Linked DNA regions of Homo sapiens: region 2 is linked to region 1. Evidence: fine-mapped expression QTL. A gene starts in region 1. The other region holds a variant in brackets. All regions are shown on one strand. Distances are from middle to middle. Region 1 holds the start of DMTF1 (cyclin D binding myb like transcription factor 1). Region 2 overlaps CROT (carnitine O-octanoyltransferase).

Region 1 (5,392 bases):
AGAACAAAAATTTTTATCCTTATTGGCTAGGAGTATTGGACGCCTTAGCTCTCCATTCCCTTGATAAGGAAACACTTTTCTGGCTAATATTCTATCAATAGGTCTCAACAAAGATTTACCACAAAAGAAGAAAAAAGTGAAGTGGATATAGAGAGGTTGTCACCAGGCTGAGGTATTAAAAGGATTGCAGAGATGAGACACATAGGCAAAATGCAAGGCGGGAAAAGGATTGTAAGATGGAGTGTCATAAGGCCCAGAGGGAAGCCTACAGGAAGAATCTGAGACAGGAGACCACCTGGTAAAGCCTGGTGTGTGGGCATAACTGGGACAGTTTATTCATTCCTCCATTAGCACAGCAATCTCCATCAGCTGGAAGGCCCTACAGTGTATACCCATCAGCTATATTAACAGGACTCAGAGCCTGTGTAGAAAGAAAATTACTCAGTAATTGTAATTTTCTTTTACTTTGAACAAAAGCTTATAAACATCTTTTTTTTTTCTGAATTAGCAAAAGATGATCATGAAACAACAGAACCTGCTTCTCAGTATTTGAAATACTTTATATTAATATATCAACCTGTCATAAAAGGCAATTTCATCATCAATCACTGATGAGGTTCACAAAAGTGTTATAGACACCTGGAGTCCAACAAAGTCAATTTTAACTAGCAAATGCAGTAAATACCATAGCTAAGCTATAAATACTTTAATAATTATTGTTTAGGATAGAAATACTTCTAATGATTTTTCTACAAAACATTTAATTCCTAAATAGGTAAATCCTTGGATAATATTTAAAACCTCATCCATTCCCTAGGTACACATTGACTAAATAATGAGGTACGGATAACATAGAAGTATAACTGCAGAAAATTGCTCTAGGAATCAAGTTGTGTTATGGATAGTCTTTACATTGATTATTCAAGCTAAAGGGATAGAGACGTTATTATATTTTTTTAAATTATGCATTAAGCTAATATTAAAATACATTTGTCATCCCCAAATAAATACCAATTGACTTGGGAAAAGGTAGTTATAAAAGAAACTCAACCAGAAAGGGAGAATTTAGTTATGAGGATGCACTTGACTTTTTGCGGGGAGTTAGCAGCGTGCAGGCTGACCTAAAATTTAGCAGAGGAGAATGGATAGCCCGACTATAATTTATATATCACTATTTTGTGCCTTAGCAAAAATAATCCTATATGGTTATGTCTTATGAAAAATATGGCTCATTAGGAACCACCTTATCAATGTTAATGTCAACAATTTTGCATATGTAATTATTATTTTATTAGAACTGCTCTTTGAGTAGTTGTATTGCTTTCCTGGCTTTAAGGTTTATTAGTTACCATTTTTAATGCTTAATACACGTCAGATTCCATGCAAACTACGCTGTCTACAATATTCTGGAAGGTACATCTTATTACTCCTAAAGTAAACAAAGCTAAAAGAGGTGAAGTGCCATATCCACTACTAAGAAATGGAGCCAAGATTCACACTCAGGTCTGACTGCCTGAGTCCATACCACGATACTATTCTGCCTCATAGTTTTGCTTACATAAACATTATTATGTACTTATTAAAAAATGGAATGATACACGGCTTAACTCCAACAGAATGCAGAGTGCCACAAATTAGTAATAAAGTTATCAACACAAGAAAATGCTGCTTCTGAGATTTATTTTTGAAAATTAGTCAAACATGTCGATCCTCCAGTAAAGCAAAGCATTTGTAAACTGGTTGTAATCATTTGTTTTCGTTATGAAAGTACTGCCAAAGTGTATTTTGTGAACTGCAACCGGGTAGTTCAGAACACAGGCTTTGGAGCTGAGGCTTCAATTCTAATTCCACCGCCAACTTGGGAGCCCTTGGACACATTCCTTCACTTCTCTTTGGTTCCTGTGTAAAATGGGATTCATTTGTAATAATTGTAGCGATGCACTTAGAACTTATGAACATTAAATGAGTTTAATATACGTAAAACATTTACCTGTCACATACGCACTCAAAGAATGCTGGCTCACATTACAGAACCCAAAGGCTTATTTATCCTTTTCGTTTATAAGGGTATTAAAACGCGTTTTCTATTTAGGATGGGTTTATACGGCTGCAACCCAAGGAGCATCTGTACTTTTAAGAGGAACTGGGCACAGCAAAACAGCATCTTCCTAGTCTAACAGTGAGACTACATTCACAGAGGACACATTTCATCAAGAACGACTTAACACGCCCAGATATCTCATATTATGCCCCTGCGGTAAGGCAAATCAAGTATGAAGACACACACTCCCTGTTTTCTTCAGCACTGAGATCACTGGTTCCCTCCGTTCCACACCGCGGCTCCCTCGGCTCGGAGCCACAGGGAACTATGAAAATCGGCACGCGAGGCCTAAGTGTCCCCAGAACCAGAGGAACCACAGTTGCGTCATAGCAGAAGGACCTCTTTTACAGCATCAGCAGTGGGATAGTCAGTGCCGAGTTTTCCTGGCAGGACAGCCGACAACCACCGCCACAGACCAGTACAAACATTCCAACCCAGGACCTTTTTTCGCGCGCCGACACAGCCGGAAGTGACGCGTACAGCCAGCACGCTGGGCCGCCAGCGGGACAGACGAGCGGGAGGGGCAGCGTGCGGGGAGCTGGGGGCGGGGCGCGGCCGCAGCTCCGTTTCCGGTGGCTCGTCGCGCTCGCTCACTCCAGCTGCAGCCACTCTCGCCCGTGGCTGCTTCCTCCATCCTGGTATTTTTTGGAGCTTCCATCCTGGTTCTTCCAAAGTGCCCGGACCCAAAACAGGAAGTAAGTGCGATGGAACCTTCAGGTTCCAACCGCCGCCAGGGCCGCTCCGCCCAGTGGAGCCTGTCCGGCCCCCTTGCTGCCCGCTAGCTCCCGCCGGCTGGCGCAAGCTGTCGGCGCCGGGGCACTGCGGGCGGGGTCGGAGCCTGGCCTTCCTGACGTTGCAGCTGCCGTCCCCGCACGTTCCGGCCAGGGCCTCCCTCTTAGGGCCGGGCGGTGCCCGTGGCTCAGGCTGCAGAGTAGGGAAGCGAGCGGCTGCCGAGGCACAGCGGCGATCCGGCGGGGGCGGAAAATGGCGGCGGCTTCGGAGGAGCTAAATGGCGCCGGGACCCCTGGGGGGTGGGGTGGGCCGGGAGGTTGAGTAGAGAACTGGGCCAGAAGGAGTGGAGACAGTAAGGAAGCCCTACTTGTTTTCTCGTGGTGTTCTATTTTTAGTTTTTATTTTTGTTACGTTTTCGGTTTTGTTTTATGGTCCAGCGTAGGAGAGGTAGGCTTGGGTGGGGTCGAGAGAGTGGGGGTGGGTCTCGACCCAACTTCCCCCCCTTTGCTTTTTTGTTCTTTTCCCTCGTTTGCGCTTTAGATTCTTCTGTAATTTTGCGGGGGTTCAGCCTTGCTCGGCGATTCACGGCCCAGACATAGAGAATCGGGATAGCTGGCCGAACCGTCTCTCTCAGTCTGACTCTCTTTAAAGAAGGGATGTGGGCTGGGGCGCGGGGACAGTCCTGGTGGAGCACGGAAAATGCGGCTGTAAAGTTGTAATTACCCTATTGTGCCGAGTTCCGAGAAAGTTCTTAAAATTGTTAAGTCCACTTTGTTCTCTAAAATGTACTTCGCTTTGAGAATTTCTTCAGGGAGGTATGTAGAATGTTTTACCACAATCTCCAGAGCAGATTTGAGAGTAGAAGTGGCCAAGTGCCCTTTTGTGCAATTGAATGATAGAGCATATGTCTTTATATAAAATACTCGGTGTAGATAAGGAAAAGGATAATAGTATACAGTATGAGTCAGGACTCCTCCCTTTCTCTCATTGAATTTGTGTAGTTGCTTTTTTCGCAACTCATTCATCTTTGTGTACCTCTTTTTAATGTACATGGATTTGATTATGTGTGCCTCCTTTCTGACAGTCGAGGCTGCATGTTGGGACGTCCTACAAAATGCATATTCTGTGGAATTATTTTTTAATATGACATGTCTTAAGCTTAAAGTGACGCCATTTGGAAAATTTTAAATTATACCTGTATTTTTAATTCGTGGGAGAAAACCATTTGTAGCTTTTAAGCTCCAAATACGAAAATATTCTTCCACTATGTTGAAAGTATTGCAAAATCTGTTTTTTTCAGTTAAGGGTTTTCATGTTTTTTCATTACTTCAAATTTCTTTAAGCTGGTTTTGAAATTATATTTCAAATAGCTTTCTGAGGATTACTGTCTTTTAATAACTTGAATAATTTGCCATCACTTTAACATTTAAAGAATGACTATGGCGATACACCAAAATCTTATCTTTTTGCTCTTATGGTGTACTTAGAGACAGGATTTCATGTATTTGGTTAGGATTTAGAAATTCTGTTAAGATTTAGAGAAAAAAGGTTAAAGCTACATTCCTTAACGTTACAAAAATTGTCATGCTGAGAGAATCCAATTTGGTGTGAGAATAATTTTTTTCTTCCATACAGAAAGCACAAAAACCAGCCTGATTGTATCTGGAAAAAACCATTATGTTACAGGTGTGAAAAATACATTTCATGATTGTGGTGATTTTTATCTCATTTTAACTCTCGATACTAGGTGCTTCTGTATGCCACCAAACAAGCTAATTTTTTTTCTTACTATTTTAGTTGATAGGCTCACCCCAAAATATGCTTTTGGGGACTGATTTAGCACCTGCATATTCTGCGTGAATCTCTTTAATTGGTTGCAGTTGAGCTAATGGTGGAGCCAAAATGCTATTGCCCTGTCTTCATCAACATTTAATCAGTAAGTACTGGGCATTGCATCTTTCTTAGAACTTTAAGTTCATACGTTGCAGTTATATGAATACATTATTTTATGTAAACATTTTTCTGAGTGTTCAGGTTTTAGAAGTATTTTGAGGGGAAGAAATCAAAGTTTGGGCGTTATGACTTGAGCTTTGAAAACAGCATGGTTGGGAAATGTTTACTGGTGGAGACTCATATCAAAAGTAGATAGCTGTCCTCTAGTCCTTTTTTTAGAGATCTCTTTTTTCAATCCTTTAGTTATCTCATTACACCCCAGGGGTGCTTTAAAGGTGGGGAGATAGTGTATGTATTTTATAAGGTTAGTTTGATATCACTGGTTAGTATTTAAATAACAACAAAAAACTTGCCTTTACCTCCTCCGCAAAAAATCTTACCTTTCTATTAGCCTCATTTATCTCTCCAAAATCTACAGACTCTAATTTTTATTAATGGTGTAATAAACTTACATGTCCTGAAAATAACATCTCATTATTTTAAACAGTTGCCTTTGCCATGCTTCATTAAGTGCATTGGCTTAAATTAACACCTGTGAGGATGAATGGGATAATGTGAAACAAGTATTCCTAAGGATTTACTGCCTGGCACATAGATGTTAAAATA
Region 2 (5,392 bases), 230 kb after region 1:
AAGTATTCAGAAATCTTGTGTGTTCTCATTTTAGCATGCTCCTTTTGATGCAATGATTATGGTGAACATCAGTTATTATGTGGATGAGAAAATTTTTCAGAATGAAGGAAGATGGAAGGTATGTTTGAATAAATATTTCATCTTTTTTCTCCTAATAGTTCTATAGATAAAATATTTTTAAGTCTTCCCTATTTTCAGGGTTCAGAGAAGGTACGAGATATACCACTTCCAGAAGAGCTCATTTTCATTGTGGATGAGAAAGTTTTAAATGACATCAACCAAGCTAAAGCCCAGTATCTCAGGGAGGTATATTTTTCACTTTTCTCTTAAATAATAATGATTTTTTCTTTTAACAACCATATGTAAAAATTTGGCTGTCATCCAAGCATGTCTGCACAAAACATTTTAAAATTATGCCTTTAACACCTTTAATTCTTTATGTCTGGTGATTACTTTAATGCAGGTGATAATTTGCTTCTCTTTGGTGTATTCTCCTTAGGTGATTTTTCACCGTTCTCATTTAATTCTTCTTGTTAGGCATCTGATCTACAGATTGCGGCTTATGCCTTTACATCTTTTGGCAAAAAGCTAACCAAGAACAAGATGCTTCACCCGGATACGTTTATTCAGCTTGCACTTCAGCTGGCCTATTACAGACTTCATGGACAGTAAGGACCATTCAGTTTCTATTTTCACAGTCTTGAAGTCCAAGGGTATATCTTTTTTTATAGCTATTTCATCCTAACTCCTCAGTATTTTTGCTCACTTTTTTCCCAGCTGGTACTGTGTCCTATTTGTACTTCCATCAATAGAGTATTAGATTTCTGATCTGTGGTGGTTTCACAGTTTTTCCTTGTTACTTTATCACAGTATCCACTTGATAACTTTTGACGTGTCTATTCTCATCTGAAAGAGGATTGGTCATCTTTGGCATTCAGATCGCTTGGTTTTCTTGCAACGTCAGTTTTCTGATGGGTTCATGAAAAGTTGTGATTTTATAAATTATCCAGCCTTTACTCATTTTTAGAATAGGAGCGACATTAATTTTGTGACTTAATACATCCTAAGAAGAAGTAGAAGTCCCTCAATGTTGCTTTTTCATTGATAAATAAGTTATAATTGAACATATTTATCAGGTACATGTGATTTTTTTGATACATGCATAAAATGTGTAATGGTCAAATCACGGTAATTGGGATGTCCACTGCCTCAACCATTTATTACGTCTTCGTGTGGGGAATGTTCCAAGTCTTCTCTTCTTGGTATTTTGAAATATACAACAAATTATTGTTAACTATAGTCAACCTACTGTGCTATCGAACACTAGAAGTTATTCCATCTAACTGTACCATTATACCCATTAGCTAACTTCTCTTCAATCTCCTCTCCCCCCTACTCATCCCAATCTCTGTTAACCACCATTTTACTGTCTACTTCCACGAGATCAATTTTTTTTAACTCCCATATATAGGTGAGAACCTGCAGTATTTGTCTTTCTATTTCTGGATTATTTCACTTAACAAAAAGTTATCCAGCCTTACCCATGTTGCTGCAAATGAAGGGATTTCATTCTTTGTTTTTTTATTTTGGCTGAGTAATATTCCATTGTGTATGTATATCACTTTTTTTTTTTTTTTTGAGTCAGAGTCTTGCTCTGTCGCCCAGGTTGGAGTGCAGTGGCATGGTCTTGGTTCCCTGCAACCTCTACCTCCTGGGTTCAAGCAATTCTCCCTGCCTCAGCCTCCTGAGTAGCTGGGATTACAGGTGCCTGCCACCATGCCTGGCTAATTTTTATAGTTTTAGTAGAGATGGGGTTTCGTCGTGTTGGCCAGGCTGGTCTCTAACTCCTGAGCTCAGGTGATCTGCGTGCCTTGGCCTCCCAAAGTGCTGGGATTAGAGGTGTGAGCCACCACGCCCGGCCCACATTTTCTTTATCCATACATCTGCTGGACACTTAGGTTGATTCTATATCTTGACTATTGTGAATAGTGCTGCAATAAACATTGGAGTGTGGCTATCTCTTTGATATATTGATTTCCTTTCTCTTGGATATATACCTAGCAGTGGGATCATCAGATTGTAGGGTAGTTCTTTTTTTTTTAGTTTTGTGAGGCACTTTCAGACTGTTCGCCATAGTGGCTGTACTAATTTACATTTCCACCAACAATGTATGAGGGTTCCCTTTTCTCCACATCTTTGCTAGCATCTGTTATTGCCTATCTTTTTGATAAAAGTGATTTTTAACTAGGGTGAGGTGATGTCTCATTGTAGTTTTAATTTGCATTTCCCGATGATTAGTGATGTTGAGCATTTTTCATATACTTGTTGGCTGTTTGTATGTCTTCTTTTGAGAAATGTCTATTAAGATCATTTGTCACTGGGCGCATGGCTCACACCTGTAGTCCCAGCAATTT[G/A]GGAGGCCGAGGTGGGCAGATCACCTGAGGTCAGGAGTTTGAGACCAGCCTGGCCAACATAGCGAAACCCTGTCTCTACTAAAAATACAAAAATTAGCCTGATGTAGGGGCACATATCTGTACCTCTACCTACTCAGGAGGCTGAGGCACGAGAATCCCTTGAACCTGGGAGGCAGAGGTTGCAGTGAGCTGAGATCGTGCCACTGCACTCCAGCCTGGGCGACAGAGCAAGACACTGTCTAACAACAACAAAAAAGATTATTTGTCCATTTTAGATCAGATAAATTTGTGTGTTGCTATTGAGTTTTTTAAGTTCCTTATATATTCTGATTATTAATTTCTTGGGAGATGGATAGTTTGCAGATATTTTCTCCCATTCTGTGGGCTGCTGATTGTTTCCTCTGCAGTGCAGAAGCTTTTTAACTTCATATGATCCCATTCGTCCATTTCTGCTTTGGCTTCCATACTTGTAGGGTATTACTCAAGAAATATTTGCCCAGTTCAGTGTCTTACAGAGCATCCTCAATGTTTTCTTTTAGTAGTTTTATAGTTTCAGGTCTTATATTTAAGCCTTTAATCCATTTTGATTTGAATTTTGTACACGGTAAGAGATAGTGGTCCAGTTTCATTCTTCTGCATATGGATATCCAGTTTTCATGGAGCCATTTATTGAAGAGCCTGTCCTTTCCTTTGCTGAAAAGGAGATGCCTGTAAATACACGGATTTATTTCTGGGTTCTCTATTCTGTTCCATTGGTCTGTATGTCTGTTTTTATGCCAGTAACATGCTGTTTTGGTTACTATAGTTTGGCGGTATATTTTGAAGTTTGGTAATGTGATACCTCAAGCTTTTTTTTTTTTCCCCTGGTATTGCATTGGCTATTCTGGGTCTTTTGTGGTTCCATATGAATTTTTGGATTTTTTTTTCCTATTTTTGTGAAGAATATTGTTGGTATTTTGATAGGAATTGCATTGAATATGTAGATTGCTTTGGGTAGGATGGACATTTTAACAATATTAATTCTTCTAATTAATGAACATAGGTTGTCTTTCCATTTTTTGGTGTTCTCTCACTTTCATCAGTGTCTTATAGTCTTCCTTGTATTGATTTTTTTACTTTTTTGGTTCAGTTGATTCCTAGGTATTTTATATTCTTTGTAGCTATTGTAAATGGGATTGCTTTCTTGATTTGTTTTTCAGATTGTTTGCTTTTTGCATATAGAAATGCTACTGATTTTAATATGTTGATTTTATATCTTGCAACTTTACTGAATTTGTTTATCACTCTAATGGCTGTTTGTTGGTGTCTTAAGTATTAGATCATGTCATCTGCAGACAGGACAATTTGACTTTTTCCTTTGCAATTTGAGTGCTCTTTATTTCATTCTCTTTTCTAATTGCTTTGGCTAGGACTTCCAATACTATGTTGCATAAAAGTGGTGAAAGTAGGCATCTTTGTCATGTTCTAGATCTTAGAGGAAAGTCTTGCAATTTTTCCATGTTCAGTATGATGTTAGCTCTGGATTTGTCATATGTGGCTTTTATTGTTTTGATGTATATTTCTTCTTTACTGAGTTTGTTGAAAATTTTTTTTATCATGAAGGTATGTTTAATTTTATCAAATGCTTTTCAGCATCTATTGAAATGATTATAGGGTTTTTGTCCTTTATTCTGTTGATGTGATATATCATGCTTATTAATTTGCATATGTTGAACCATCTGAATCCCACTTAATCATGGTGAGTGATCTTTTTAATGTGCTGTTGAGTTCAGTTTGCTAGTATTTTGTTGAGGATTTCTGCATCTGTGTTCATCTGGGATACTGCTCTGTAGTTTACTTCTTTAGTTGTGTCCTTTTCTGGTTTTGGTATTAGGATAATGCTGTCTTCATAGAATGAGATTGAAAATATTCTGCCCTCTTCAATTTTTTGGAATAGTTTGAGTATAATTGGTATTAGTTCTTTTTTTAAAGGTTTATTAGAATTCAGCAGTGAAGCCATCAGGTCCTAAGCTTTTGCTTAATGGGAGACTTTTTATTGCTTCAATCATATTACTTGTTATTGGTCTGTTTGGGTTTTCTATGTCTTTATGTTTCAATCTCAGGTTGTATGTGTCCAGGAATTTATCCATTCCTTCTAGGTTTTCCAATTTGTTGGCATATAGTTACTCATAATAGTGTCTAATGATCCTTTATATTTCTGTGGTATTGGTTACCATATCTCCTTTCATCTCTGAATTTATTTATTTGAGTCTTTTCCTTTTTCCTTATTCTACCTACAGATTTGTCAATATTGTTTATCTTGTCAAAAAATTGACTTTTGGAGCTCTTGTAAAAGTTCAGATTGCTTACTGTTGTGGACTTGGAGTGTCTGCAACGAAAGGATACCCTGGCTGTGTGGGAAGGCTGGCTAGGGCTTTATAGCCTCATGGACTCATGGAGCGTGCTTCCTACACCGTAACACTGCTGAACAACCTCTTTGATTTGGTGTCTTTTTTGGCTGAGATGAAGAGTGATCACTGAGTTTTGTTCATTGGGGATTGCTAACCCCATCTCTACCCATTGTCTCTGGCTGCCTTTAGGATTTTTTTACCCTATAGGCAAAGATGCTTCCCTTAGGTTGAAGCAGGAATGATTTTTCTGTGAAGGAACCCAGCATGGAGATAAGGGTGTCTGTCTGCCTTGATCTCACTTCTTTCAGTGTAGTATTGTGAGTCCATGGGAGTTTTTCCACATGCGGCCTGGCAGCTTGAGGGCGGGGTGTTGTGGATAGAGTGGTCTGTTTCTCTTACCTTCTGCTTGAAGTTTTTTGCTTCTCTCTGGCCCCTGGGATCATCACAGCCTCCATTTTGGTTTCTGGGATACTCCTGAGGATAATTGGTACTAGATAGTTGTTTTGGTTTTCTGTGGGGAAGAGTGAAGCCAGATTGCTTCTACTCTGCCATTATGGTAACATGACTCCTCTCAGTTTTGCTTTTTTA

What was found. PIP is the estimated chance that this variant, and not a neighbour inherited with it, causes the effect.
Region 2: its variant is the best candidate, but not a certain one, in a credible set for the expression of DMTF1 in whole blood (INTERVAL, PIP 0.65).

Annotation. Positions count from the first base shown.
Region 1 is chr7:87,149,760-87,155,151 of GRCh38, forward strand. It overlaps DMTF1 (cyclin D binding myb like transcription factor 1), which reads left to right and starts at 2,694. Exons shown (of 18, transcript NM_001142327.2): 1 at 2,694-2,796. It overlaps DMTF1-AS1 (DMTF1 antisense RNA 1), which reads right to left and starts at 2,734. Exons shown (of 2, transcript NR_136253.1): 1 at 2,543-2,734; 2 at 1,664-1,899. RefSeq lists enhancers at 1,764-2,327, 2,243-2,482, 2,328-2,889.
Region 2 is chr7:87,381,876-87,387,267 of GRCh38, forward strand. It overlaps CROT (carnitine O-octanoyltransferase), which reads left to right. Exons shown (of 18, transcript NM_021151.4): 11 at 35-118; 12 at 199-306; 13 at 538-668. It also overlaps a transcript of ABCB4 not described here. Among named protein-coding and RNA genes, the nearest start is that of CROT, 39 kb to the left of the region's middle. The variant G/A (reference allele first, on the strand shown) is at 2,415.